Linked DNA regions of Homo sapiens. The protein of the gene in region 3 purifies or fractionates together with the protein of the main gene of each other region. This does not show direct contact. Each region holds a gene or a part of one and is shown on either strand. Other genes may lie near its edges. The genes, in order: IPO13, COXFA4, ALDH3A2, DYM, BRAT1, INTS12 and ZDHHC5.

Evidence for each region.
Region 1: the proteins of ALDH3A2 (region 3) and IPO13 purify together in Homo sapiens (affinity purification with mass spectrometry; 3 studies listed by BioGRID and IntAct, with this or other methods). This does not show direct contact.
Region 2: the proteins of ALDH3A2 (region 3) and COXFA4 purify together in Homo sapiens (co-immunoprecipitation; one large-scale study listed by IntAct). This does not show direct contact.
Region 4: the proteins of ALDH3A2 (region 3) and DYM purify together in Homo sapiens (affinity purification with mass spectrometry; one large-scale study listed by BioGRID and IntAct). This does not show direct contact.
Region 5: the proteins of ALDH3A2 (region 3) and BRAT1 purify together in Homo sapiens (affinity purification with mass spectrometry; 2 studies listed by BioGRID and IntAct, with this or other methods). This does not show direct contact.
Region 6: the proteins of ALDH3A2 (region 3) and INTS12 purify together in Homo sapiens (affinity purification with mass spectrometry; 3 studies listed by BioGRID and IntAct, with this or other methods). This does not show direct contact.
Region 7: the proteins of ALDH3A2 (region 3) and ZDHHC5 purify together in Homo sapiens (co-immunoprecipitation; one large-scale study listed by IntAct). This does not show direct contact.

Annotation. Positions count from the first base shown.
Region 1 is NC_000001.11:43,966,236-43,968,522, reverse strand, and holds the end of IPO13 (importin-13), read right to left. Parts: intron 1,949-2,287; coding exon 1,882-1,948; intron 1,800-1,881; coding exon 1,741-1,799; intron 1,594-1,740; coding exon 1,504-1,593; intron 1,209-1,503; coding exon 1,027-1,208; intron 938-1,026; coding exon 841-937; 3' UTR 501-840; downstream 1-500. UniProt on the Homo sapiens protein: Functions in nuclear protein import as nuclear transport receptor. Serves as receptor for nuclear localization signals (NLS) in cargo substrates.
Region 2 is NC_000007.14:10,934,299-10,937,153, forward strand, and holds part of COXFA4 (cytochrome c oxidase subunit NDUFA4), read right to left. Parts: intron 1-2,855. UniProt on the Homo sapiens protein: Component of the cytochrome c oxidase, the last enzyme in the mitochondrial electron transport chain which drives oxidative phosphorylation.
Region 3 is NC_000017.11:19,662,251-19,665,750, reverse strand, and holds part of ALDH3A2 (aldehyde dehydrogenase family 3 member A2), read right to left. Parts: intron 2,419-3,500; coding exon 2,252-2,418; intron 804-2,251; coding exon 704-803; intron 1-703.
Region 4 is NC_000018.10:49,331,646-49,335,145, reverse strand, and holds part of DYM (dymeclin), read left to right. Parts: intron 1-1,292; coding exon 1,293-1,418; intron 1,419-3,139; coding exon 3,140-3,282; intron 3,283-3,500. UniProt on the Homo sapiens protein: Necessary for correct organization of Golgi apparatus. Involved in bone development.
Region 5 is NC_000007.14:2,549,025-2,552,524, reverse strand, and holds part of BRAT1 (integrator complex assembly factor BRAT1), read left to right. Parts: intron 1-1,559; exon of another isoform or gene 1,560-1,655; intron 1,656-3,400; exon of another isoform or gene 3,401-3,459; intron 3,460-3,500. UniProt on the Homo sapiens protein: Component of a multiprotein complex required for the assembly of the RNA endonuclease module of the integrator complex.
Region 6 is NC_000004.12:105,702,190-105,705,689, forward strand, and holds part of INTS12 (integrator complex subunit 12), read right to left. Parts: intron 3,202-3,500; exon of another isoform or gene 3,125-3,201; intron 1,621-3,124; 5' UTR 1,459-1,620; intron 835-1,458; exon of another isoform or gene 697-834; intron 1-696. UniProt on the Homo sapiens protein: Component of the integrator complex, a multiprotein complex that terminates RNA polymerase II (Pol II) transcription in the promoter-proximal region of genes.
Region 7 is NC_000011.10:57,674,614-57,678,113, reverse strand, and holds part of ZDHHC5 (palmitoyltransferase ZDHHC5), read right to left. Parts: intron 1-3,500. UniProt on the Homo sapiens protein: Palmitoyltransferase that catalyzes the addition of palmitate onto various protein substrates such as CTNND2, CD36, GSDMD, NLRP3, NOD1, NOD2, STAT3 and S1PR1 thus plays a role in various biological processes including cell adhesion, inflammation, fatty acid uptake, bacterial sensing or cardiac functions.

The DNA.
Region 1 (2,287 bases), on a different chromosome or scaffold from region 3:
GGTGCTGATTGATCCCTGACCATCCTGTGCTGGAGGTCCTGTGTAAGCGGGGAGCAGCGGACATATGGACAACCTTAGGTCCTACTTTCCTCTTTTCTCCTCTGCGGCTGAGATATCTTCTCTCCTTCACCTCCCTGCCACCCACCCACCCCCCAATACACACACACTCAGCCCCTTTCTATAGCCCTCCTCAACCATATGCAAGTTCGATGTTGTATAACTCCACACCAGAAACCCCTCCCGGAAGTCAAAACTCCACTCCATTTCTTCCTTCCTAAACGGACCCAGCCCTACCCCACTTGCAGCCCAAAGTCTCAAGTCCTCTACCTAGAAAGCCTACTATTCCTGTCAAAAACTTTCTCCATGCAGCCTTCCCTCACTTCCTACCATTCTCCATGGTAGCTATGGACTAGATCAACCTTTGTTCAGGGCAGAACGACGCAGGACAGAGCTAGGGGCCTAATATTCGGCGGTGTTGATTAAATAAATGTATGCATACATGCATGTTGGGATTAATTTAATGGGGATGGGGGGGTTGATGACACTACTGCAACCACCCCGCCCCAAGGACAATGACAGTATTCTGAAGGGCTCCAGCCTAGGTGGCTTGGCTACAGTAGTATCTCTTCCAACCTGGGAGCTAGAGGATGTTCCCACCATTCCCTCCCAAGGCCTGGGTCCAAGCATCCTCCCATCCTTCCCCCAGGCCTTCTGGACCCAGGCTTTCAGTTAGGTGGTGGTGACAGCAGAAAGGAGGCAGAGACAGCAGTGAGGGTCCAGGTTTACTCTTTGGGAATAGGGAAGGATGAAGAGAAGGGGTGGATGGGATGGGGGCACCCCTCAGTAGTCAGCTGTGTAATCTGTGCCATGGAGACCCCGGCACAGCAGTGTGAACTCCTTCACCATCTCCTTCACCCGCCTCTTGTTCACTCGCTCGCTGAAGGAGAAAAGGGAGAGCAGGTTAGCACCAGCCACCACCACTGCCCCCTCTCTGCCTGACCCCAGGCCCACCCCAGCTCTGCTCACCGAAGGATCTGCTGGCTGAAGGTATCCTTCTGTTCAGGGCTGAGGCGGGCAGAGGGGAAACCAGGTGGCTGCAGGGCCTCCTTGATCCACATGCTCAGGAGGCTGAAGCAGTGCTTGTTCAGGGCGAACAGGATATCGGCAAAGCAGTCCATGAGGCTGCGGGAGGCCTGGCCCCCAATGGCCTGAGGGAGAGGGGTTCTCAGCACACCAGGGTGTTGCCCCTTCCGCCGCTTCTGCAGCAAGAATGCCTAACTGCCCTCTGGACAGTTCCTAAGCCAAACTGCACATCACAGTGAGCGCTGCTTTTTGAGAGCCAGCTGATCCCCACAGCAATCCTAACAACTTTCAGGCATTTAATTGAAGAAGAAACAGAATCTGAGAGCTTAGGGGACCAAAGGCTCAAGCCTCCCAGAAGGCCAGCTGCCTCAGCAGTGAGGGGCCCTCACCCCCATCAAACCCCCCTTTGCTCCGTCTCACCTCCAGCACTGCTATGAGCAGCATACGACCGTCTTCCTGTACCACCTTTCCCACAGACTCTACTTCCCCACACCGAGGCAGCAGCTCTGTCTGCAGAGGATGGAGAGGCCCATCAGCCCAGCTCCTTCCCAGCTCTCCCTGAGGACAAGACCTGTACACCCCAGCCCTACTGTCTGAAGTCCTGGGCAGGGGAGGGCACTGGGGTGGCAGTGGGTCAGGGTTCAGCATGGGACTCACAAAGAAGCCACAGGAGGCCTTGACAGTAGGTGCCTCAGGGAACTTGAGGGCCAGCACAGCTGTGGGAAAGGCAGAGGCAGATCAGTTTAACGATCCTTCTAGGGGAGCCCCAGGCCCACCTGTCCATCTCGCCCCACTTACCACACTGGAACACAGCTTTGACATCCAATCGTTCACACAGGAACAAATCTGGCTTCCGCTTCAGAGCCTGCAGGAGGTGGAGCTGGTAAGCCCAGCCCCAGCCAGCTCCAAGGACCATCCCCCCCACTCACCTGCCACCCCAGCCCCCAACTTCACACCTCACAGGTAGAGGCTGCCAAAACCAGCTACCCAGCCATCTCTGGGGGACCCGGACCACCTCAGAGTTCAGTAGGTCAGGTGAGGACAGCTCAAGGGATGCTATGTACATGTATGTGTACATGAACACGCAGGTGTACGTGAGAGAGGTTGGGGGTGGGGATCATAATGCAGAAAGTTTGGGTTCCAGACACCTTTCCCTCCCCCTCCATCAGGGCCAGATGTCTCGCAGGCTCTAGGTTGCCAGCAG
Region 2 (2,855 bases), on a different chromosome or scaffold from region 3:
TTGCTGTTTACATTTCCAACATTTCTTTATAATCAATTAATATTAATTTTTAGAAATAAATCTTACTGTGATTGCTTTAAAAAAAAAAAAAAAAAACTCCCTCTCTCAGTAACTTAAAAAAAAATGACATATTTGAAACTGGTCCAGAGTTTCTACTAAGGACATATTAATGCTTGTACACAAGCCCAAATAAGGCTAAAATCTTGGGTTTACTCATTCTTGTGCCAAAGAATGCTAAAGAGGTTGTGCTATAATTACTTGAAGACTATGTTATTTATCTCCAAAAGAACCACAATTTCAGAATGATAAACATTTTCTTCAGGGTTTTTAAGCATGAAGTTCACAAATCTATATTCATTCTTTCTTCAAACCCCTTTTATTTCTTCAAATATACCCGAACTTATTTATTTCTGAAAAACTCTTAAGTATTTTACTGACAAAAAAAATCCTCAGGTTGTAAAGCTTATTACCAAGTTATCGTTGAGATACAGACAGATACAGACTTTTATGGACAGAAAATTATAAATAATCCATAAAGCAGTATTCTTTGTTCTGACAGTGTTCTTTTAAGAAACAATTAACCTAGACAATAAGGTTAAAAAAAGAAAAAGAAACTACTTGTGCTATCCTCTAACATATTAACAAAATATCAGAAATAATTTACAGAAGGGTCTGCAGGTATATATTAAGGACAGGAAAATAAACACTTGTTGGGCTCCTGCCCAGGCACCGGGCTAGATGCTTTATGTATATCTTAGTTAATCATCACAATAACCCTTCTGATTCTTAATTTATAAAAGAGGTAATTGAGATCAAGTTCTACGATTTGCAGGATCAAGGCCCTACACCCACGCAGAGTCAAAAGCACATTCATGGCATTGTTGCCAATTTTCTTAAAACTAAGCAGGCTCCTGATTTACTTGCTTCATATCCAAAATTCTCTCTAGAATTTTAAAACCTGCTTTCAACTTCCCTACCTCTATTCTTTTTCTCAGTTTAATGCTGGCTACTTTTAGAGTCTCTGAAACAATAGTTGGGAAGGCACAACATATTCTGATCTTAGCTTTGGGGAGCTTCAACTGTTATTCAGTTGAGAAGTATTGCTGGGCCTTTAATGCTCAAATCTTATTTTGGTCCTGTCTCTTGCTGTTTTATTCATAGCTTTTGCTAGATTATAGCATGGCAACAAATAATCCTCTGCTACGGACTGAATGTTTATGTCCTCCCAAAATTCATGTTGTAACCTCAAACGCCAATGGTGATGGTATTTGGAGGCTGGGCCTTTGAGAGGTAATTAGGTCATGAGGGTGGAACACTCTAACTAGTGCCTTTACAGGAGGGCTCACTCCTCTCCTTCCATATTGTGAGGACACAACTGGATTGGGCCCTCATGAGGAACAGAATTGGTTGGCACCTTGATCTGGACTTCCCAGCCTCCGGACTGAGGAATAAATTTGTTGTTTAAGCCACCTGGTCTACAGTATCTTGTTACGGCAGCCCAAATTAACACATTCAAATCTTAGCGGCTTACAACGACAAAAGTTCACTTTTCACTCACATTATATGCCATCTGTATGCTGATTGCTCCATATTTGTTTCATTCCAATTCTAAGGTGAATAAGTAGCCCTTACTTGTCAATTTTGGTCTCATGAGAGAAGCAAAAGAACGGAGGGACCACATAATGGTCCAAGAGTGGCAGGTATCATTTCCTCCAACTCATAATTTCCCACAGCAAGTCACAAATCAAATCTGATGTCAGTGGGCCAGAAAAACATATTCTCTTAGGTGAGAGATTGTGAATGATGGAGATAATAATCTAGTCTACCTGAATGGGTTTAGAAAAAGTATTAAGTAGGTTTCATTTACTCCAGCTTCTCAAGTTTCTGGATTTGGTTCCTTTTCATTTCTGTCATTTCATAACATGACACTCTTCATCTTTCCAGACTCTGCTATCAGTGTCATAGCTATTAACAGCTATGTTGTTACAGCAACATTTCATTTTCGGTTCCCAAGGCCTCATATTGGCATGTGTTGTGATATTTCAGAACATTAGTAGACTGGCTGCATTATCGGAATCATCTGTTACACTTTTTGAACTACACATACCCATAGATTCCAATACGCTCTTTGGTGGAAGAATCAAAGCCTGCTAGTTTTTTTGTTTGTTTGTTTACTTTTTAAAAGTTTCTTGTATGTGGAATTATTTTCTCTGGAATGGACTTAGTTTAAACAAATTCATAAACAATGTCATAAGACATAAAAACAAATCAGGATGCCCGTTTATCTTTTTAGAGGCAAAATATAACACAGATGAGATCGATGTTTCAGCTTAGCCATTGCATTTTTATTTTCTTCTTGTAAGGAGATTTACTGAAGGATTTAGAAGCCAAATTATAATCAGGTTAAGGGGAAAACGTGAAATCCACAAAGGGTGATGTTAAAAGTTGCTATCAGGCTGCGGGCACAGTGGCTCACGTCTGTAATACCAGCACTGGGGGGTTGAGACAGACGGATCAACTTGAAGCCAGGGGTTCAAGACCAGCCTGGCCAACACGGCAAAACCCCATCTCTACTAAAAACACAAAAAATCAGCTGGGTGTGGTTGTGCGTGCCATAGTTCCAGCTACTCAGGAGAGTGAGGCAAGAGAATCACTTGAGCCTGGGAAGTGGAGGCTGTAGTGAGCCAAGATAATGGCACTGCACTCCAGCCTGGGCGACAGAGTGAGACTCTGTCTCCAACAACAACAACAAAAAAACGTTGCTATGAGTAATAATCCATCATAGATGTACACCTGTCAAGCAGTGCTGGACACACACTGATCGGGGACCCTGTTCTTCAGAGTGATAAATCAAA
Region 3 (3,500 bases):
CTAGCCTAGGTCCCAAAGGAGAAATAAAAAGCTGAGTCAGTCATCTCACATGTGGGAGAGGCAGGCAGGTCATGTTCTAAAGGGAAAAGCAAGGATCAGGCTATGTCCACAAAGCTTCACTTGGAATGAATTTCTTTCTGCCCATCCTCTCTAGAACAGGGGGAGTCCCGTTTTACTCAAATCACAAAACAATTCAAGGAGAGGCTGCTCCTCCCAACAAAGGGCTGGGGAACAATGCAGGTAAGAACTGAGCAGAAAACAAAGGCACATTAGAAAACCCCTCTACCTTCTGTCCCTGGTATTCCGAACCTTTCATTTGCTACTTCATTAAACACACACACCACACACACACACACACACACACACACACACACGAAGAGAGATCTTCTTAATTAATTTGAGACCTGATTCTTGGTTCCCAAATCTCCTAAATGTGGCAGGATAACAAAATCAACGAAGTGAACAAAGCTGTGGTCAGTCAGTGCTGCTGACAGAAAGAGAGTGACAAGACATTTGCCCTATGCTGGAGGGGTGGGTGGGGAAGCAGGAAAACCAGTCAACTGGGTGACCAGGAAAAGGTCTCCCTCAGGAGAGGACAATCAGGGTACGCAACAGCTGGCTATTTCAGCAGCCCATACAATCCACTCATGAAATGGTGGTGCTTTTGAAATATCTACTACAAGCAGGAGAAAATAAGACTCACCCACTCCTCCAAATGGGAAAGAGTTGAGCGTGAAGTGCATAATGACGTCATTGCCTGTGACACCTCCACTGGATGTCTCATCAATCATCCGTTTGATGAGCTGAGGACAGACCAAAGGTGTCCAGGTCAGTGAAGTTGCCCCTTAGGGAACACTCATGGCCCCACCACACAGAGGGCTGTGTGCTCAGTTATGTGCTCAAAGCATGCACATTCTGGCTTTGTGTCAGTGAAAATTCTCGAGTTTGGGGACACCATGCCAGATAGACAAACAATCTCAACTGGTTAATTTAGCAAAGTGACTGATACCCAACTTCTCAGACACACATCTAGTGCACAAAAGGAGGCAGCTCCAAACCTCTGGGCCTACTCAGCCACAACCTGGAGTTGTACTCCCCAACACAGCAGCAAAAGACTCTTTAAAAGGGGACAGCTTAGACTATATTCCAGCTTTAAAAACTGTTATTATTTCTTTCTTATCTCTGCTTTAAATTATAACACATGATTAATAGGTATTATTTAGTCTTTATGAAATGTAAAAATATTTAAGACTTTAGATTTAGCATCCTATTTTTTAAGAAATAAATGGTTGTTTGGCCTAAGGCTCAGAAAAGCACAAGAACACTTGACTAGTAAACGTCATTTACCCTTGGGTGCCAGCAAGCCCTTGACAATTGTTCATGGCAAACGTCAAGTCTGGACTATAGTGACCTCGGGTGACCCACTGCTGGGAAGTGCTCCACACCTGACTTATACCCTGGCCAGCCTACTTTCGGCTTCAGGGTTCCTTCCTGCCCACATTATCCATGGTTTTAAATGTCAAACCATTGTTTTGTTAATAACCCAGTCTTTACTGAGCCCCACACATTTGGTCTCACTTCAAATACCTGTAGCTATCTGTATCTCAATAGTCTCACAAGCTCCAAAAGCTGTCACATGACTATCTATACATTACCATCAGAAGCTCTCCAGAAAACATTTGGGCCATGGTCTCTTAGTAGCGGCTGGTCACCTAGTGACATGAATGAGTGAGCCATGCAGAAAGTGGCAGAACTGCTCAACCAGGTGATGCAGTTCCACCACTCTAACAAGAAGCTAGCGTCATGTTAGAAACTAAAATCCATCATATCACAACCATTTATGTGACAGTGTCGGGGTCTTTGTCCCACACAGTGGGTGTGAATGCCATTTTGTGCAGGCTGTTATTCAGCAATGCCCTGTGGATTAACATCAGAAAAGCATTTAATGCTGGCACATATAAGTCTTCCAATTATACAGGAGATGTTTGTGAATCAAAAACCTTGTGACACTCAACCCTGCAGACTCAGATCTAACCCGAGGGAGGAGGGGAATGGATGCTGTGATAACCCCAGAGTCTCATTAACCAAGACAGCAACCTCGGAACACAACCTCACTTAGTGGATGGACTCTGACATGACACAAAAGAAACCATCATTGTTTCACATTGTTTTTTGCATTGTTTTACAGCAAAGAAGGAACATGACTCTTGACAGTTGCTTATGCTAACTAGCTGTTCTCTCTAAAGCTTACCTTATGGTTATGCGAAAATACATAAAGAGCCAGAGGCTTTTCACGTTCATTTATGAAATTTATGGCCTCATCTACATTTTTCACAGGCACTATTGGAAGAATTGGTCCAAAAATTTCTTCTTGCATCACCTTGGTTTTAGGATCAACATCGGTAAGTACTGTTGGGGCTAAAAAGAAAATAAACAAAATGAAAATGCTTATTAGACAAAAATGCACAACTCTCATATTACATCTCTTTCATTGGGTCACTTATCCATGCCTTTCCCTCTCCCACCCAAGTCATATCTATTGAAAAATCCTGAGCACGTGGATGAACTGTGCACATACTCAATGTCTCCAAAGCCTGTGAATCACAACCCTGCGGATACTTGTGCAAACCAAGGGAACGATACACACTCAAATATATCTTTTTCACATTGAACCCTGTTCACAGCCATGCATGTATTTAACTGTAGATTATACTTAACATTTTTCTGTGGACAGGTTTTTTTTTTGAGATGGAGTTTCGCCCTTGTTGCCCAGGCTGGAGTGCAATGGTGCCATCTCGGCTCACTGCAACCTCCGCCTCTGGAGTTCAAGTGATTCTCCTGTCTCAGCCTCCCGAGTAGCTGGGATTACAGGCATGCACCACCACGCCCGGCTAGTTTTGTATTTTTAGTAGAGATGAGGTTTCTCCATGTTGGGTCAGGCTGGTCTCGAATGGACAGGTCTTTCTAGGAGCAAAGACAGCTCCTCTGTGAATCAAATCAATACTATTTTTCTTAACTCGAGTGCTTTCATATATATGATCTCATTAACCTTTATTATAACTCTGTTAGACAGATTAAGAAAACAGACTTAAATGGTCAAAATTCCCTAAACCTTAGTCCACTGTTCCATCTACCATGGGGAAGAGGCACAAGAAAGGAGGGTGAAACAGATGCTGGGGAGGCTAGACAAAGTGTCCCAGCATCTGCTGCCAATGTAAGTCACCAACTAGCAGTACTCCAAAAGATGCTGTAAGTAAGAAACTGGCTCGTCAACCAAAAGAGAAGTCATCTGACAATAACAAGTTGGCACTTTTCCTTTACCCCCAGTTTCTAATAGGTTATCTTGGCAATGTGGCTGGGGACAGCTTCTTGCAGCACCACTTCCAGGGGGTATATAAACTGCCACTCCAAATCCATTGCCCACATCTTCCTCAGGTCAGAGAAACAATTTGGGCTGAGTGTCTACTTCCTCTGCATAGCCATGCTCAGGTAAGATGATC
Region 4 (3,500 bases), on a different chromosome or scaffold from region 3:
TAAATATATTTCTTTTTCTTTCTTTATTTTTTGTTTTTGAGATGGAGTTTCGCTCTTATCGCCAAGGCTGGAGTGCAATGGCACGATCTTGGCTCACTGCAACTTCCGCCTCCCAGGTTCAAGCCATTCTCCTGCCTCAGCCTCCCTAGTAGCTGGCATTACAGGTGCCCGCCACCATGCCCAGCTAATTTTTTGTATTTTTAGCAGAGATGGGGTTTTACCATGTTGGCCAGGCTGGTCTCAAACTCCTGACCTCAGGTGATCCACCCGCTTTGGCCTCCCAAAGTGCTGGGATTACAGGCGTGAGCCACTGAGCCTGGCCTTTTAAACATATTTCTATCAGTAATAACTCCTTAAGATATCTGGTAGAATTTAAATTTTTCTAGTTCTAGAATCAAGTCATCATTAATTTGTTTAATGAGCTTTCATTTAAGTAGGTGTTAAGTATTTTTCTTTGTTTTTCATAATTATTTCATTTTTATAAAAATATTTTAGTATTCTTTTGGTGCTATTGCTCTTTTTACTGCGTTGTTGAGGTTTCTACTTCCTTGGTCTTAACATGTTCCCCATTATAATCCTGTTTAAACTTTTGCAGTAACTGGAAATTTCTGGATGCCTTTATTCCTCTGTGTGCTTTCTGTTCAGCTGAATCTTTTTCTTTTTATTTGATCTAAGACTTGTTTCCCAAAGGGGTTTATGATCTTGAGAGGACAGAGTAACCCTTCATAATCAAAATATGCTTAATAAAACAGGAATAACTTGTTTACTGTTAATATTTTGCTGAACATGCAAAGTTGACCTTGAGAAAGGTAGGCACTAGAGACACAAGATCTAGGGTGTATTATTGTTCTGATTGTAAAGTGATCATCAACATGAAAAGGCATTGTTTTCTTCCCTACACTGTACCTTCTCTTCAGCTTTACAATCTGAGTATTTGTCTCTGTATTATCACTAAACAGAAATGAACATAGATGTCTAGAGTGAATCTTCAAAACAGAACACTGCTAGTAACTATTTCCATTATACATAAATAGACTTGTCATTTAATAGGAGATGGAAACTGGAAAATAGGGAAATAAAGGGATAACTAACCCAAATACACCAGCTAATGACAGGGAAGGAGTTTAATATTTTTGCTTGACTTAATTTTTGTATTAAACGTATTAACATTTTTCAGTAACCTGAAAATACTGAATATTTAGATTTGAGTTTTTAAATGTATAGTTCATTTAGAAAAGAATAGTGTCTTAATCTTCCAAAGTGACTGTTACTCTGTTTTTCTTCCATTTTAGAGATATTACATATGAAATATCAGTAGAAGCTATATCAACAATGGTTGTTTTCCTTTCCTGCCAACTCTTCCACAAAGAAGTTTTGCGACAGAGCATCAGCCACAAGTATTTGATGCGAGGTCCATGGTATGTTTCTACTTTAAGTATGTCTAGTTTTTTCATTGTATAAATCTATATTTCTAGTCTTGTCCTTTTACCTGAGTATCGTCCCATATCTCCAACCAGGTATTTCCTCTAGTTGTTCTATTGTCTCTTTAAACCCAGTGCATAGGGAACCGCATTCTACTTTCCTGTGCCATCTACCCATCCTCCCTGTTCTTCCTGTCCCGTAGCTTCATTACCTTCTCCAGTGGTTGCTTCGTAGAATTGAAACTTTGAAATCATCTTTTTCTTCCATCTCCTTCATTCTGTCTATGTTTAAGCAGTCAAGTCATATTTGTTATTCAGATTATTTTTGTATCTTCCTCTTCTCAGCAGTCCCTTTGAAACACCTGTGATCTATGCCCCCTTACTCTCTTTGGACTTCTCCAGCAGCCTCTTCGCTGACTATTCCTACTTCTTTGAGCCTGCAAATATTTGCTGTGTGCTATCCATGTGCCAGGCATGTTAGACTGTGGGGCTATGCTCTTGAGCAGAAGCTTACGATCTCCTAGAGGGTGTGGATGCAAATGACCAACACATATGCACATACCTGACCTTTTATTAACATAATCTTCACAAAACTTTAAAAATGTAAAACAAATCCAAATAAAGTACCTTTGAGGAAAGTTCTCAGATAGTGGGGAGCTTTGTCTTCTTCATATTCTTTTTGCTACCCTGATTATTCCTGTGGCATGTATGTTCTTTGAACATATTTGAAAATCACTGAGGGAAAGGATCTGGGCTTTGGAGTCAGAGGTTTGCATTGGAACCCTCTCTGACAGAGACACTCAGAATGACACTCAGAATGACCGTGGTTTGAAGTAGTGCTGGCATCGTGGGACTGTGTGCATCTTTGCTGAAACAAGATTGTGAACTTCATCCCTTATAGTGCCAGAGTATTCAAGTTGCTTTTTAAAAATAGACATAGAGGGTGTTAGTGTTCTTATTTTCTAAGTAAGGTTTTTATAGTATCATTATGGTGCCACATATTTAAACCGTAATATGTTCTTTACTTATTTTTGGGGTTCATCTTGGAAACCATATTTAAAAAGCTCAATAGTACATTAAAGAATCTGTTAAAAAGTTTACTCTATATTGCAGGAATTAGTTTAATACCAATTGAATAATTGAATAATTTCATACTTAAAAAGTGTAGTCCTATTGTTATTTTTAAATTCTTGCTTTTTTCTACTGATTCTTTATTACTACTTCCCTTCAATTGCCAGATAATGTGTTATGCACTAAATTTATAATAGCTCACAGTGTTATACCGAATGTAGATAAAGTAACTGGAGTTCAAGAGTTCAAGTGGGCTGGGCACGGTGGCTCACGCCTGTAATCTCAGCACTTTGGGAGGCTGAAGCGGGAGGATCGCTTGAGTTTAGGAGTTTGAGACCAGCCTGGGCAACATAGTGAGACCTTGTCTCTACCAGACCTTGTTTCTCCCCACTGCAGAAAAAAAGTATTTAAGTAATTTGATCAATATCTTATGATGTGATAAGAGGAAAAGCAAGGATTAAGCCTCAAAATTGCTCTCAAAGCCCATGGTCTTCACTGTTGTGTGCAGTGCTCAATTTCTGTGAGTTGTGCCAATAGCCCTTTTGTATTAACAGATAGTGTTAATGGCAGAATTATTTCTGTATTGTTATTCAGAATTAGATGACTCCCATAAATATGAGTTTGATTTTTTTTTCCTTTTTGTATAGTCTTCCATACACCAGCAAACTTGTGAAGACCTTATTATATAACTTTATCAGACAAGAAAAGCCACCTCCTCCAGGGGCCCATGTTTTCCCTCAGCAGTCGGATGGGGGAGGACTGCTTTATGGACTTGCATCAGGAGTAGCAAGTAAGTTTTATCAGATTTTTTCAATTCTTTGGTGCACATAAATTTTATCTATTTAGGCATAAGAAATTCTGTTTGCTTGGCTGCCACCATTAATAGTTACATTGAATTTGTGCAGCTGGTTCAATGTGAAAACAAAGTAATTAAAATATTAATCTTTCTGTTTTGTGCGGTGATTTATGTAAAATGTATGCAAATAATGAATGGATTACCTACAAAAC
Region 5 (3,500 bases), on a different chromosome or scaffold from region 3:
CGATCTCCTGGGCTCAGGCAGTCACCTGCCTCTGCTTCCCAAAGTGCCTTTTACCCTCTTTGAGCTAAATATCTAGGTCTTCCTTGTTTTCTAATATATATATTTAAGGCCAGGCACGGTGGTTCATGCCTATAATCCCAGCACTTTGGGAGGCTGAGGCAGGCAGATCACTTGAGGTCAGGAGTTGGAGACCAGCCTGGCTAACATGGTGAAACCCCGTCTCTACTAAAAATACAAGAATTAGCCTGACATGGTGGTCCATGCCTGTAATCCCAGCTACTCGGGAGGCTGAAGCAGGAGAATCACTTGAACCTGGGAGGCAGAGGTTGCAGTGAGCCGAGATAACGCCATTGCACTCCAGCCAGGGCAATGGAGTGAGACTCTTGTCTCAAAAAAAAAAAAAAAAAAAAAAAAAAAATATATATATATATATATATATATATTTAAGACTATGCATTTCTCTAAAAGTATGACTTTAGCTACATCTTACACGTTTTACATTGCAGTACTTTGGTTTTAATTTAGTTCTGAGTATTTTATGCTTTTCATTATAATTTTTTTTTCACCCACAAGTTACTTAAAAGAGTATCCTTTAGTTTCAAAATATGGATTTTTCCAGTCTTTTTATTATTGATTTTTAATTTACTTTGTGGAGGTTAGAAAACATAACATATGTTTTGAATCTTTATAGCTGTTGAGACTTTTATTGAGACATAGGACCCAGGCGAGTTTTCTCAATGTTCTAGAGATTTCACTATATGATTTTGATGTTTTGGTATTTGAAGGTCTTCAACTGTGGCCTAGTTTGTAGTAGTCAGTTTTTCTTTTTCTTTTTTTTTTTTTTTGAGCCAGGGTTTTTGCGCGTCACCCAGGATGGAGTGCAATGGCGTGAACACGGCTCACTGCAGCCTTGACCTCCTGGGCAGTCCGCCTGCCTCATTCTCTTGAGTTCCTGGGATCAAGGTGTGTACCAGGCCCAGCTATTTTTTTTTTTCCCATAGAGATGAGGTCTCACCATCTTGTCCAGGCCAGCTTGGAACTCCTGGGCTCAAGCAGTCTTCCCGCCTGGGCTTCCCAAAGTGCTGGGATTACAGGAGCGAGCCACCATGCCTGGCCTGTATTTAAATTTTAAGAAGTATTTTTCAGTAGCTTTATTGAGATATAATTTGCATACCATGCCATTCTCCCATTTAAGGTGTACCAGATCCTTTTACAGTTTGTAAGCATGAGATATATATATATCTATATATAGATATATATATAGATATAGATTTTTTTTTTTTTGAGACCAAGTCTTGCTCTGTTGCCCAGGCTGGGGTGCAATGGCACAATCTTGGCTCACTGCAACCTCCGCCTCCTGGGTTTCAAACGATTCTCCTGCCTCAGCCTCCTGAGTACCTGCGATTAAAGGTGCATGCCACCATGCCCGGCCAATTTTTGTATTTTTAGTAGAGGTGGGATTTCATCATGTTGGCCAGGCTGGTCTCGAACTCCTGACCTCAGGTGATCCCTCCACCTTGGCCTCCCAAAGTGCTGGGGTTACAGTGGAGAGCCACTGCACCCAACCTAAGCATGATAATTGAGTGTTCAGGCGCATGTGTGAGATGTGGCACCATGGAACCCTGGTATGATGTCGGTACGTGACCCGTCTGACATGAGAAATGGACAAAATAAATAAATAAATGGTACCAATTCAACAGTTCTTAGTAAATTTACAGGGCTCTGAAATCATCAGCACAATCTAATTTTGTTCCCCCTAAAGAAACCGAGTCTGGGTTCACAGTGAGTCCCTGTTTCCTCCTCCCTCCCAGCCTCTGTCATTTCTCCTGCATTGTACTTGATGGAAAGAGTGTAGTTTCCACACTCGTTCATTAGTTCAGACCTGCTATGTTCTTGCTAATTTGTTTGCTTGTTTCTGAGAGGTGTGTAAAAAGCTTACACCAAGATCATGGATTCATGATTTTTCTTTGAGATGCATCCTTTTTTTTTTTTTCGCTTTACATATTATTTTTTTCTTTTTCTTTTCTTTCTTTTTTTTTTTTTGTTTTTTTTTTTTTGAGATGGAGTCTTGCTCTATTGCCCAGGCTGGAGTGCAGTGGCATGATCTCGGTTCACTGCAGCCTCGACTTCTTGGGCTCAGATGATTCTCTCACCTCAGCCTCCCTAATAGCTGGGACCACAGGAGCCCGCCACCACGCCCGGCTAAGTTTTTGTATTTTTTGTAGTGACGGGGTTTCACTATGTAGCCCAGGCTGGTCTCAAACTCCTGGGCTCAAGCAGTCTGCCCGCCTTGGCCTCTCAAATCGCTGCAATTACAGGTGTGAGGCACTGTGCCTGGCATTTTTTTTTTCTTTTTTTTTTGGAGACAGGGTCTCACTCTGTCACTCAGGCTAGAGTGCAGTGGTGTGATCACGGCTCACTGTAGCCTCAACTTCCTGGGCTCAAGTGATCCTCCCACCCCAGCCTCCTGGATGGCTGGGACTACAGGGACACACCACCACACCCAGCTAATTTTTTGTATTTTTTTGCGGAGACGGGGTTTCACCACGTTGCCCAGGCTGCTTTACACGTTTTGAAGTGAGGTTAGGTATACATAGATGTAGGAATGTTGTGTCTTTCTGGAATTTATCTCCGTGATCAGTTAACTTACTTCTGCATGAATACTGCTTTTTGCTTTACAGCCCATTTTGTTTGCTATTTCTGTTGCTACATCAGCTTCTTTAAAGTTAGAATTTGCCTACTGTGTCTTTTCTCTCCTGCTCCCAGCCTTTCCTGTCGTTGCATTTTATTGCTTTTAGAAACACCACATTGCTTGTTTTTAGTGTTTAATTTAATCTCAGCAACTCTTTCTTTTAACAGATAAGTTTGATCTCTTTAATTTGTTGAGGCGACTGTTAGATTTGAATTCTTTTGTATTTTTTAATTTCCTGTGCCTTACCTTTGTGCCTTTATCCTCCTTTTCTGCCCTCCATCAGATTGATAAAGCTTTTTTTTTTCTTTTAAATCTTTCCTCTTCTGGTTTTGAAGTTATACATTCTATTTATGTTCTTCTTTTTAGACAAGTTCTTGTGCTGTTGTCCAGGACAGTGGTGTAATCACGGCTCACTGCAGCCTTGACCTCCTGGGCTCAGGTGATCTTCCCATCTCAGCTTCCAGTGTAGCTGGGACTATAGATGCGCGCCACCATGCCCAGCGAATTTTTATAGAGAGGGGATCTTCCTGTGTTGCCCAAGCTGGTCTTAAAACTCCTGGGCTCAGGCAATCTGCCCACCTCGGCCTCTCAAGATGCTGGGACCACAGGCTTATTTGTGTTCTTCAGTGGCTACCCTTATATTTTTAACATGAGAACCGGATTTTTTAAAAAGTCTGAAGTTAATTAGACTTTCCATTCTCTATCCAGGCAACCGAAGGACCTCAGAGCACTTGAACTTCAGGCCATCACAACCTTCTATTATTGTCGTTAGTATTTTAATTCTGTTTTGTTTCAAAACCCTTCAACA
Region 6 (3,500 bases), on a different chromosome or scaffold from region 3:
CAGTGGCATGATCTCGGCTCATGGCAAGCTCCGCCTCACGGGTTCATGCCATTCTCCTGCCTCAGCCTCCCGAGTAGCTGGGACTACAGGCGCCCGCCACCACACCCGGCTAATTTTTTGTATTTTTTAGTACAGACGGGGTTTCATCATGTTAGCCAGGATGGTCTCGATCTCCTGACCTTGTGATCCACCCGCCTCGGCCTCCCAAAGTGCTGGGATTACAGGCGTGAGCCACCGCGCCCAGCCAATTTATTTCTATTTCTATTTATTTTTTAAAAATCTATTCATATACAGAGTGATAATAGTGTGTTATATAATTGATCTTTAACCTCAAGGAGCTTTATCTTCAGCCAGTGAAATCTGAAACTTGCCACAACTATTGTCCTCTTTTATTACAATCAATTCTCCTTTCTGACTACAATCTTCCATTACTCTATCTCTTCCACTGCCTTAATCCAGGGACCTCTTCAAAGTGCCAAGTCAATCTTTCTTCTGTATTTATTCATTTCTCTATTCCCATTCTACTTGTTCTTTGTTACAGAAGCCTCCAATTTCTTGTCCCTTCTGCTTTCTCCTTATTGGCACCCTCTTGCCCTGACTTTTGTTTCCTCACCAAACAGAAAACAGTAGTTGAACCTAAAATAAAACACTTATGGTTATGTGGTTTATATTTTATATTTTAGTTTTCTATCTTACCTTTACTCCCCCTTTTCTGTTGCCTTCTCTAATCTCTGTTACTTTTCCTTCCTTACCGGCAAATATCCATATAGTGAAAGAAGTTTACTTTCTACAGCAGTCATAAAGAGGTCAGCAACTTGGTGTAACTGTGTTGATCTACACATACAAAAATATTTTCCTGGAGTTACACCAAATCATGTTACTTCTATACAATTCCTTTCCTGTATATTCATTCCTAAACCCATGGCCAAAACAGACTGCAAAAGAGCCATATCATTCTTACTATGGATTAGAGTTCTAGAAAACAAAGTCCTGTGTGTGTGTATGAAAGAAAAATGTATATATGAAAGATATTTAATATATTAAATGTAGGTTTCATTTAAAAAGTAGATGTTGCTTTCAAAAAGGAGAATGTGAGAAAATTAATATTTACCACTTTAAAGCTTTCGCTGACCTAGGGAAGTGGTAGTAGTAGTATTGATAGGAGTGAATTCTTAGGTGATGCTGGGAATTAGCTGTGTCAAATGCATATAGCACAAAAATCGCCATTACTGAACAATGATCTTTTTTCTGTATCTCTTATTATCCTTGATTTATTGCAGTATGCCGTTTACTTCCTATCCAGCTCACATTCTGTGGTCCACCCTTTCAATACCTCTTTCAGTACTCTAGGCACCCGAAAGCCCTGTAGTTTCCCTACTTTATAGACATCCACCCTGCTAGCCATTCTCTCTCTGCCTGCACCCAAACTCTAAGTGCAACTGGGAGGAATATACATACATTCTATCTTCAGAATCACCATTCTCAGCTTGGCGTTCAGTACAACTTGGCAATTCTCTCATCCTTCTCTGGTCAACTCACTTCCCCACTTTCTGCAAAGATCAGTTATACTTCCTCCATTTTCTTTTAAAATTGCTTCTGTGTTTCAGTAGATGGCCTCACCTACTTCACAAAGAGAGGCTGTCAGAGAGGAATTAAGTCGACTTCCTTCCAGCACATCTACAAACTTACCTGCACTCATCCTTTCCTCTTTCCCATCTGATAAAAAAGGAGAAGGTAGCTCTCTATGTAGTGTCACCTGGATCTGGATCCTATCTCTTCTTGTCCCCTCTTGAACCTTGGCCTATGGATTATTTCCCATATCTTCTTTTTTTTTTTTTCAGCCTTTCTACTGGCATCTTTTCATTGACATTAAATATATTCAAACATCTTCTATCTTTTCTCTTTTATAGCAAAACGTTCTCAGAAATCATATGCTTTTGTACTCTTTTTCTTCATTCCTTCTATTTACACAGCAATTCTTGCAATTCAGCCTTTGTCCCACTATTCCATGAAAATGCTCTCATGAGTCATTCGCCGCCTCAGTCAGGTAAACCTAATACATACGATTGTCCCTCCTACTTCTTTGTCAGTCATCTTTGTAGGTTCCTCCTATCCAATTAAAAATGAGTTCCTCAGTGCTAGGTTCTGGGTCTCTTCTTGACTTGTTCTACATCTTCTTCCAAAAATGTGTTCTCTGAGTCAGCAGCATAGGTATCACGTCAGAACTTAGAAATACAAACTCTTGGTCTCCATTCCTAGGCCTACTGAAGAAAAAACTCTGGGAGTAGGGTCTAGAAATCTGTGTTAAGCCTTCCAGGCAATTCTATCTACTCTAAAGTTTGGGAATTATTGCCCTAGACAATTTGATCTATATAGTCTTTTGCCAGTGATTACTAATACATCTCTGCAGTCCATGTGTCTCTCCCAAGATCCAACTGCCAGCTTGACATGGATATATCATTGGTGCCTCCTATGCAACGTGTCTCCAACAGAGCCACTCATACACTATTCCCTTTTCTCCTAACCAGTTCTTCCTCTAGTAATCCCTTTTTCAAATGATATTTACCCTATTGCCCAAGCCAGTAACCCAGAAGCAGCTTTAACTCTTCCCACTTCCTTAATTCCCACCCCCAATTCAATAACCAAACCTCTTAAACATACCTCAAATCTATCCACCCTTTTCAATCCTTACTACTACCACCCTAGACCAACCTAGCATCATCTATTATCTGGCCCACTGCAAAAGCTTAATCAGTCTCCCACAATCACTCTTGTCATCCCTTTAAACCTTTTCATATCACTCACTTGCTTAAAATCCTTTTATCACTTCTCACAATCCAAAGGTTCAAGAATAAGATTCTTAACAAGGTCTCCAATTCTCTACATCAGGGGTCCCTAACCTTCAGGCCATGCAGCAGGAGGTGAGCAGTAGGCAAGCGAGGGAAGCTTCATTTGTATTTACAGCCACTCCCATCACTTGCATTACTACCTGAGCTCTGCCTCCTGTCACATCACTGGTGGAATTAGATTCTCATAGGAATGCGAATCCTATGTGAACTGTGCATGTGTGTGATCTACGTTGTGTGCTCCTCATGAGAATCTAATGCCTGATGATCTGTCACAGTATACCCCATCATCCCCAGATGAAACCGTCTAGCTGCAGGAAAGCAAGCTCAAGGTTCCCACTGATTCTACATTATGGTGAGTTGTCCAATTATTTTATTATATATTACCATGTAGTAATAAGAGAAATAAAGTGCACAATAAATGTAATGCACTTGAATCATCCTGAAACCATGTCTTCAATGAAACTGGTCCCTGGTGCCAAAAAGGTTGTGGACCATTGCTCTACATGATTAATAATACATATAAAGCAGTTACAACAGTACCTGACACATAGTTGACACTCATTAAATGTTACCTAGTATCTTAGGCCATTCTCACTCTCTCTGTTATAGCTATCTGACTTATTTCAAGTCCTCCAATATACTCTTTCTTAC
Region 7 (3,500 bases), on a different chromosome or scaffold from region 3:
AGCATATTGCTTGAGCATATGACTAGTGTTCCTTGTTGATGAGAGAAGGCTGAAATGAATGTTCCACTTCCTGCCCATGGGGATCCTCATTTAGAAATCCTTTCCTCAAGATTCCATGAGAAAACAATTTCTCCCTTTACAGGTGGGCAACCCAGTTTCTCTGAAAACACCTGATTTGTGGTACCCAGACTTTCAACCAGCTGAATGTGAGACGTAGGACCTGGGCACTTATTCCTGGATAAGAAAACAATGTGAGAAGGAAAAGGCACAACCACTGCTCCATTAATGTGCTAAATCACAAGGCTGCTCCCACTCAAATCAGGTGCTAATACCTCTGCAGTTACGGGGGAGGGGGGACCAGAGAGAACTCCATGGAGGTCGGCCAACTTCCTGTGGGTAAAAGGGTTGGAAGAGGACTGAGGCAGAAACTGAAAAGCCGCAAACTATATAATGGATGGGAGCCTGAAAAGACCATCATGGATTTCCATACAACTCTGACTTTATCCTTCCCTTAGATCACGTGAAGTGGCCAGGTGCGGTGGCTCACGACTGTAATCCCAGGACTTTGAGAGGCCGAGGTGGGTGGATCACCTGAAGTCAGGAGTTTGAGGCCAGCCTGGCCATTATGGTGAAACCCCAACTCTACTAAAAATACAAAAATTAGCTGGGCTTAGTGGCAGGCGCCTGTAATTCCAGCTACTCAGGAGGTTGAGGCAGGAGAATCGCTTGAACCCAGGAGGCAGAGGTTGCAGTGAGCCGAGATCACACCACCACACTCCAGCCTGGGCAACAGAGTAAGACTCCATCTCAAAAAAAAAAAAAAAAAAAAATCACGTGAAGCAGAGATCTTATCCTGCCCCCTCCCCACCAGCTTTAGAAATGGATAAAATAGGGGCTGGGCGTGGTGGCTCACGCCTGTAATCCCAGCACTTTGGGAGGCTGAGGCGGGCAGATCACGAGGCCAGGAGATCACGACCATCCTGGCTAACACGGTGAAACCCCTTCTCTACTAAAAATACAAAAAATTAGCCGGGTGTAGTGGTGGGTGCCTGTAGTCCCAGCTACTCGGGAGGCTGAGGCAGGAGAATGGCATGAACCCAGGAGGCAGAGCTTGCAGCGAGCCGAGATCGCGCCACTGCACTCCAGCCTGGGCGACAGAGTAAGACTCCATCTCAAAAAAAAAAAAAAAAAAAAAAAAAAAAAATCACGTGAAGCAGAGATCTTATCCTGCCCCCTCCCACCAGCTTTAGAAATGGATAAAATAAGACCTTAACTGGACTAATTCACAGTTTGATGAGACTTTAAACAAGATACAATTCAAAGTGATTCGAAATGGTGTTACCAGGAGCACTAGGTCTCAGGAGATCCTACACGGTAAAGAGGCGATACCAAGGGGCTGGGCCTCTATATGCCAGCCTCACTTGAACCAGAGCAGCCCTAATTTTTATGTTGGTTTTTTTTTTTGTATATAAGATTTCATTTGAAAAAGGGTCATGTTGCTTAAACAAACTGCTGTAGGTCAACGTTCTCACTGTAAACAGGAAGAACTTAGGTCCACAAAGGTTAACAGACTTCACCAGAATCAATCTCCTGACCTCCCCCAAAGAGGGCTTATCCCACTTACCTAGGACTGCCCCTCTGCCAGTCAAAAAACAAGATTAAACTAAGATAGATAAGCATCCAAGTAGTTATCCTAAATGAAGTCTAGTAACTAACTGGGAGGTAGAAGGTTACTTCAGCAGACACTCTCCCTCCCAAATAGTGAAAACAGAGAAGAATTAAGACAGGATCCCCACCATTCCTTAGTTTTAGTGCTGGACAAATTCAGGGAATGAGAGGGATTAGAGTTCCAGGAGGAAGGCCTGAACTGTTCTGTTCAAGATTCTCTGGGGCAGATCACTATTTCTTTGATGCAAACTCAACTAGTAATTTCTGCTCATAGCTTTCCCCAACTTAACAAAGAAACATGGAAGGTAAATTGTTCCTAACTAGTTGAAGTCTACATGCCTCCACTAATTATGTCTGTTACCTGAAAGGGACTCTCCCTCCTACTCGCATTCCTCTATATCCCAAAGTAATTCTCACCTGGGGCTTCTAATAATGTAGCTAGTTGTAGCCTAGTGAAGAGAATAGGAGGATGATAGAGTAGTTACAGATTTACAGCCCCACATAGGAGCTAGTTCAGAGAGTTTTCCTCTTGCCTCTCCATTTGAAACCCTGAACTCTTTTTTAGGTTGTATGGTTTTAAACAGGGGATTCTCCAGGGAACTGAACCTCGAAAGAGGTAAAATACATGAGAGGATAGTTTTTAAGAACAGTGGTGCCTCAGCCCAGATATATGCTTACAGAGGAAATACTCTAGTCAGATGGAGAAGAGGAGATGAGAATTTCAGAATTACCCGAGCTAGGTGCTAGAGTAAGATAAACAGTGTGTTTGTGCCCCCACAAGGTGACTAGGGGAGATGCTTAGGAAAAGATGGAGCCCAGAAATTGGTCCTGTGGAAACTAGCGCCAGGGGGAAGGAACTCCAGCTATGACTTAGGGTTCTTCTAACTTTGGATGAGAGGCAATAATTCCAAATAAGGTCAATATTGTCCTCCAAAATCCTTTTTCCTAGAGCTAAGAGACCATGGAATAAGGAGGGCTCCTACTTTACTGGCACCAGGGAATGAGAAAGTAGGTTAAACAGCTTCAACTATCAGTTGAGAAAATGCCTATGTCAGGACAACTCTTTGTAGGCAAACTGGTATAACCAGTCAAACACTTCAATGGTTCCAGATTAGCAAATTAAAAACAAGGATTCAGCTTGCTCTATCTCAAGAAGAGGGAGCTTGAAAGACAGAAATCATTTAGTCCCCTCAATTTCCTTCTCCAAAGGCTTTGCCTCTTAAAGGAAAATAGACCCTCCCCAATTGAGCAGAGTTAAGGGTGTCAAACTGGTCTTGTACATACCCCTCTTGACCCAGAACCAAAATTGCTACAGGATACTAAGATATAATATAAATGTCCCTTAGTTAAAATTTTGATTCTACTTCCTGGCCATATTAGCAAAAACCAAAACAAGTTCTGACACCAAAGACTCACCCCTCTTTCTGGTAGTAAATGTATGAAGAAGGACAGAGCACTGAACATGTTGAGTTTAAGCAAGAGGAAAAGGTTATGAAGAAAATATTAAGTCAGAGAAAAGCAGCACTGTCTCTAGATCCTTGAGAGACTCCAGCAGGTATGCTCAAGCTCAGAGCTGGGGGCCAAAAAATCTACAACTTCTCTGCTTCAGAGGAGGTGAGAAGTAGGATGGTGTTCATGCCTTAGATAGTGATTCTTTCTCTCCTTCTTTAAAAACTAGAGAAATACATCAGTATTACTTTGCTGACTCTTTAGACAATGTGACCCACATTTTTCAGAATATCTTTTGGCTTCTAAAGCTAAATATGGGGAGTTTTCCTTCCCTCCTACCTCAGATTTAACTTGTGTATAATTGCCTCCACCCCAATAATCTC